2 linked regions of the Homo sapiens genome follow. The protein of the gene in region 1 purifies or fractionates together with the protein of each later gene. This does not show direct contact. Each region holds a gene or a part of one and is shown on either strand. Other genes may lie near its edges.

Evidence for each region.
Region 2: the proteins of USP37 (region 1) and KRT84 purify together in Homo sapiens (affinity purification with mass spectrometry; one large-scale study listed by BioGRID and IntAct). This does not show direct contact.

What each region holds. Positions count from the first base shown.
Region 1 is NC_000002.12:218,477,707-218,481,361, forward strand, and holds part of USP37 (ubiquitin carboxyl-terminal hydrolase 37), read right to left. Parts: intron 2,010-3,655; coding exon 1,944-2,009; intron 1-1,943. UniProt on the Homo sapiens protein: Deubiquitinase that plays a role in different processes including cell cycle regulation, DNA replication or DNA damage response.
Region 2 is NC_000012.12:52,377,187-52,380,012, reverse strand, and holds the end of KRT84 (keratin, type II cuticular Hb4), read left to right. Parts: intron 1-105; coding exon 106-137; intron 138-1,632; coding exon 1,633-1,979; 3' UTR 1,980-2,201; downstream 2,202-2,826.

The DNA of each region.
Region 1 (3,655 bases):
TAATTGATACTTAAAATGCTGATTCTAAGTCATTAAGATATACTTAAATTATCCTTAGTTATTTTAAGAATGTAAGGAACAGTGTAACATATTTTAGAAACATTTTCATCCAAACTGTTAAAAATCTTTTAAAAGATAAATCGTTAAAAGGTAAGCTTCAGTTATATAAAAATTCACTTATGTGGAATCCTTTAATGATGCCAGATAAGTAAGGTGTTACTGTGTTGTCTTCTAGGTAAGCCGAAAATAAACTAAAGAAAAAAGTGGTAAAGGTCAAAGAACAAGAACTTTCTTTGATGGAGGTTAACACAAATTCATATGCAATACAAAAAATATATATAAAATGAAAACTAGAAAATACAATTAACCTGAATGTAAAAACTGAAAATAAACATATAGACTAATGGCACCAAGAAATAAGAGGCCAGAGTGGAAATCAGGAAGATTACATAGCAATGTAGATCAAAGAAAAGAGGCAAGTGGTCAGTGATAAGCCCAAACATAGTGTGTGGCTCAGAGCAGCCAGGATATCACTGCACTCCAACCTGAACACTTGAAAAGCCTCCCATGTGCTCAAAAGGGTTTTTAGTATAATAGCCAATTAGCCATCTTAATTCCTCAATTCAGATTTCACGCTCACCAAGCAAACCTGAACATATTAATTTGTTTACCCAGATAAATATTTTGCTGAAGGAGGATGACACCTGGCTACCATTGCACCAGGGTAAATTTGTGACAAAGGACATTGTAGAAGAATCAATGGTATTCTGGTTCATAACTCAGCCTCTTTTAAGTTTGATCGGCATGACAGGTCTTCTAGGGCCTAATCATTCTTTATTGATCAACTCCCAAATTTTCATACCAGCAGACCCTGGAGAACAGATGACCATGCCAAGGTACAATGATGCCCAATGAAATCATTTCTTTCTTGAAACTACAGTGACTTGGTACATAGAGTGCATTCCATTAATGATTACTATATTTACAGAAGGCAGCTTGCCTGTAGCAATGAAAAATATTCATCCTGTAAATGCATCACTTGCTCACTTTCTAAGCAGCCAAGTGGTATTGCTCATTTGTATCTTGAGAACGGGCAAGAGTATTCATATCGGTACCATTTCAGATTTCTAGTCATGTTAGTCATCTGGTTTTAATTGCACTGAAAAATAATTAACAGGAGGAAAAGAAAATAGCAGTTCCCAAATGTCATTTTATGGTTATATAAGCCCCCCAAAAGCCCTTAAACAACAAAAATGTCTCTTCTCTAAAAGTACTTTGGGCCATCAAATTTTTAGAAAAATTAATTAAAAAGTCAAACGACAACTAAATCAATTGAAATGATCTAATCAGGAACTCCTCTAGTAAAATCTTAGAGGAAATATATTTAAAAAGCAAACAAAAAAGGCATGTGCTTCCCTCCTTGGATAAAGTTTGGTCTTAAACAAAAAAATAGGGCATTTGTAGAATGCTTGCTTGTTTTCCTGTCCCCTTTCAAAACAACTCCTATTCGGTGTCAAAGACAAGAAGTTCCAGACTGGCTAACAACAGGTAAAAAATGTTTTGGGATTCCATGCCTATCTTTAAGGAAGAGTGCTTTAGACTAATAGGGGTTATTTTATCCCTTAAATCCCTAGACTCCCTTGTCCTCAGTTAATTTTTAGAGTTTTAGGATGAAAGTATTACATATTAACAATAATAAGTTTTTAAAAGTTTTAAGACAGAATATTGAGAGGATGAGCTAACCTTGTGTCACTGATTAAAATTTGTTATATCCTTCAATATATTCTAAACCAAATTCAGGAAAGTTTCAAAAGTATAGGTAATAAAGAGCATTATCATGCAAAAAGAAAAACAATAATGAAAAGGCAGGGAGGCAATCTTGGAGATTAGGGTAAGCCAAAACCTTAAACACAGATTTTGGGTACATAAGAAATATAACTCACTTTGAAGGTGTAGAAGGGCTGGTGATGCAGGAATTCACCATTTGAGAGGCTTTCAATGGTCTAGAACTATCAGAAAATTAGAAAATATATAATGTATACAAATGAATTATTAAAGATATATATTTAAATTATAAAATGAATTATTCTTACTATAATTCCTTTTATGTCCTCTTGAAAATTGAACAATTATAATACTTTTTAAATTACTAGCAATAGGCCAGGTGCAGTGGTTCACGCCTGTAATCCCAGCACTTTGGGAAGCTAAGTGGGCGAATCACCTGAGGTCAGGAGTTCAAGTCCAGCCTGGCCAACATGGTGAAACCCTGTCTCTACTAAAAATACAAAAATTAGCTGGGTTTGGCGGCGGGTGCTTGTAATCCCAGCTACTCGGGAGGCTGAGGCATGAGAATTGCTTGAACCTGGGAGGCGGAGGTTGTAGTAAGTGGTGATCGCACCACTGCACTCCAGCTTGGGCAACGGAGTGAGACTCCATCTCAAAAAAAAAAAAAATGGCCGGGCATGGTGGCTCATGAGGTCAGGAGATCGAGACCATCCTGGCTAACATAGTGAAAACCCGTTTCTACTAAAAAAATACAAAAAATCAGCCGGGCATGGTGGCAGGCGCCTGTAGTCCCAGCTACGCGGGAGGCTGACGCAGGAGAATGGCGTGAAGCCGGGAGGCGCAGCTTGCAGTAAGCGGAGATGCGCCACTGCACTCCAGCCTGGGCGACAGAGCGAGACTCCGTCTCAAAAAAAAAAAAAAAAAAAAAAAAAATACTAGCAATAGAGGCCAAAAGAGAAAATAAAATACCATCTCTAGGCTCTCCTTGATCCAATAATCTACATAGACAGCACTGGAAATGAAGTCAAGTGTAATACATATGAAAAAAATAACTTGGAGAAAATTACCTTGTCTCAGTTCTTTTAAAGTAATAGCTCTCATTTATGGAGGATTTACTGGATGTCAGACACTGTGCTAAGAACTCTACATATTATTACCTCATTTAATGTTCACAACCATCCTATTGTTTTTCTTATAGACAAGTCAAGGAATCTGTGCAAGGTCTAAAAGCTATCAAATTGTACAGTCAGATAGCTTGGCTTCAGGCCTGTGATCATACACTATTAGTGTGACATAGTACTACTGCCAGCAAGAGTAATAGCTCTACCAGCAGAAGGTAGTATGCACCAAGCAAAAACGTGAAAAGCTGTGAGAGGAAAAAACCAGAAACACTTAGACTCTCTGGGCACATGCCTTTATTAGTAGACCCTTGAGACACTAGTGTAAACTTCTATGAGACGTGGCTCTTTCAGACACTAACTGTATGACTTTAGGAAAATCATTTAATTTCCTTGGTCCTCTTAAGGGTTTGGACAAAAACCTCTAAAATCTCTTCCATCTTCAAAGTTCTACAATTTTATTATTCTACCAAACTAGTGTTCAAGTATAGAAAAGAATGACATAACATATGGCTTCAAAGTAATGCAAGTATGTAGAAAAAAGGGGAACACTCAAAGAAGTCCGAAGGTTTTCCCAGCATACATGATGAAGCAAAAACCTAAAGTAAAGATTACTTCTTTTTTTCTTGAGAAATTTCAGGAGCCATTTAAGTTCTTTACACTGCTGATAATATATGCATGAAGGCATAACATTGAGTATAGGGTTTCTCACATCTGCATGTCCTGAAGAGTCAACTGAAGCATTTGCTAAA
Region 2 (2,826 bases), on another chromosome or scaffold:
CTACTGCTCCACAGATCTACTCAAACAAGAAAGCCCTTTTTATGGCAAATAGGTTTTCAGGAAACAATAGTGCATGTGAAATGATTTGTTTCTTCCCCTTTCCAGGCTCTGTGAAGGTGTTGGACCAGTAAACATATGTAAGAAACTTGTTTTTTCCTCTTCACACATTTCTCTCCTCTTCAAACTTCCTTTAAACTCAGGCTCACACTGGGGTCAGGAGGCGTCCGACATGGCCGGTCTGGCCACGACAGTCAGGGGAGCTGGGACCATCCAGCCCTGGATGGGGAGCATCTTCTTAGCTGAGGTCTGAGATCTCCCCAGAGCCTGCCTTCCCCAGAGCAAAACATTCATAAAGGTTTTCAAGGCCTCCAAAGTGGAGGACAGCCAGCTTTTTTGCTTTGAGCGGCCTTGTCCTTCAAGGGAACTTAGAAGGACTTAGAAGGACTGGGACTTAGAAGGAATGGGACGCCTCTGCCAGGGGAGCCTCTCATCCCCTGATGGCAGGGAACGCAATAAGGCCAAATGGAAGTCTCCCCACTGCTGCAGCCGAAGCATGGGTTGTACCCAAAGCACGCAGGGCAGTGTGCCGGGCATGGCAGTCTGGGGACACTGGCAAGGCAAGACCCAGCCCACGCTCTCTAGAAATAGAATCTTCTTGAGAAGATGAGTCCTAGCCACCATCAACCTAACACTGGAAGGATCCCTGGGGAGAAAAGCGGATACTGGCATCCCTGTTTTGCCCACTCAGAGAAAGTACATGATTTGCCAGAACTTACAAAGCGAACCAGATTTCAAACCCAGATTTCTGACTCCAAAAACACAAATGAACACTGACGTGTAGTGGAACCGAGTGCTAAACTGGGTGGGTCAGACAGTCAGAGCTACATGTACTTGGAAGACAGTGTCCCTTCCCACTCCCATGGAGGCGGTGAGTGGTCAGGGGAAGCCACAGGCAATGGCTTTCTGCAGGAGGTCAAGCTTGAGTGAACATCATGGATGGCAGGAAGGATTCTGGGTAAGATGAAAGGGCAGGAAAGAGTGTACCCCTCCATGGATGGGGCTGGTCTAGCAAGCTCTTCTGTGGATTTGAGTCCTGAGGCATGGAGTTGTGTCCAAGGGAGAGCAGAGGGCTACAGAGCACAGCCACCAGTGGGTCAGGAGAGAGGCGACAAGGGACTAGTGTTGGAGGGGTTTCCTGTGTGCTGGGCTAGGGGAAATATGGAGACCACCAAGGGGCATAATACAACTGGAAGAGAAAAGGCCCATGGCTTTGTGGAAGCTGCTGTTCCAGCTGTCTGGATAATCCAGCTCACTACCTACATCTCACAACCCAACTTGACTTTAGCCGTATATAAATGACAGTCAACCTATGGATGCATGCAAACATCTGGGGAATTGGATGAAGTCGTCATTTTCATCTGAATGTTTGATTTTAATGTAGTCACAGTCTTTGAGCCATCCAGAGAGGGAAAAAGTGTATACTGACTGTATAGACAATAGGGACCACTTCCCCAGATGCCACAACCCTGACCCCACTCCCTCCCCACCAGACCCGGAGGTGCAGCCCAGGGGTAGCATGGAGGTGGAGGGCCCTGGTGTCGGCAGCCTCCCTGATGCTTTCTTTCTCCGCAGCCGTCAGCAGCTCCCGGGGCGGCCTGGTGTGCGGGCCTGAGCCTTTGGTTGCCGGCTCCACCCTCTCCCGCGGCGGGGTCACCTTCTCAGGTAGCAGCAGCGTCTGTGCCACCAGTGGGGTCCTGGCTTCCTGTGGCCCCAGCCTGGGTGGAGCCCGGGTCGCCCCGGCCACTGGGGACCTGCTGAGCACTGGCACAAGGAGTGGCTCCATGCTCATCAGCGAGGCCTGTGTCCCCAGCGTCCCCTGCCCCCTGCCCACCCAGGGGGGCTTCAGCAGCTGCAGCGGCGGCCGCAGCTCCAGCGTCCGCTTTGTGTCCACCACCACCTCCTGCCGGACCAAGTACTGAGAGCCCAGCCCCAGACAGCTGCTGCCCAGAGAAGAACCAGCTCCACGGCTCCTGCTTCTGCCCCCAGGGTTCGTGGGCTCTGGGCTTGACGGTCTCCAGCTCCCCTTTCTGCCAGGAAGCCACCCCTTAGCACTCCCCCGATTATTCTGCCTGGCCCCATGTCCTCTTGGAGGATTTTTCTGCCATGTAGATGCTCCATTAGCAGTTCCAGCTAAGCTGGCTTCTCCCTGCCTCCCAATTTCTGTCCTTTGGATCACTCCTCTCCCTGTCAGCAACAGCCTGGAGAAATGCACATTCCGTGCAATAACAACAATCCACCCAGTGCCCTCACCACCCGTGGCTTTGGGTTAATTTGGAGAATGGAGTTGACCGTCCACACTGCAGGCATCCTTAACTCCACATCCTTCACTTCCTTCTTCTTCCTTTCTCTGGTAGGAGAAGGTTCTTTCCTTCTCTCCCTGATGAAGGGGATCCCAGTCCTTGGTGGCCCCAGGCTCCCTAAACCCCGAGATGGCTTTTCTCCCAGTGGCTTCTCTCCGGCTGTTTCTCTTCCTGGGTTGTTGGTGTAACTCCAGCATGCAAGTCCACGAGGTGGGGTGCAGGCGGACAGGCGGGCTTTGCAATGATCCCCGTACTCCTGCCCCTGCTCGTGGTGTGAGGCCCAGCCCTGTCCACTGCAGGGTTGTGTCTGCAAGCTCCAAGGAGGCCTGGGGGTTGGGTGGGGTGGGCTGCCTGTGTGCACTACTCTTTGTGTTCCTGGGTTTTCAATAAACTTGCCAAGCTCACCTCACAGGGACTCTGGCCTCTCCTTCTGGATCACACTGGGGTTGGAGGAGTTGCCTCCTAG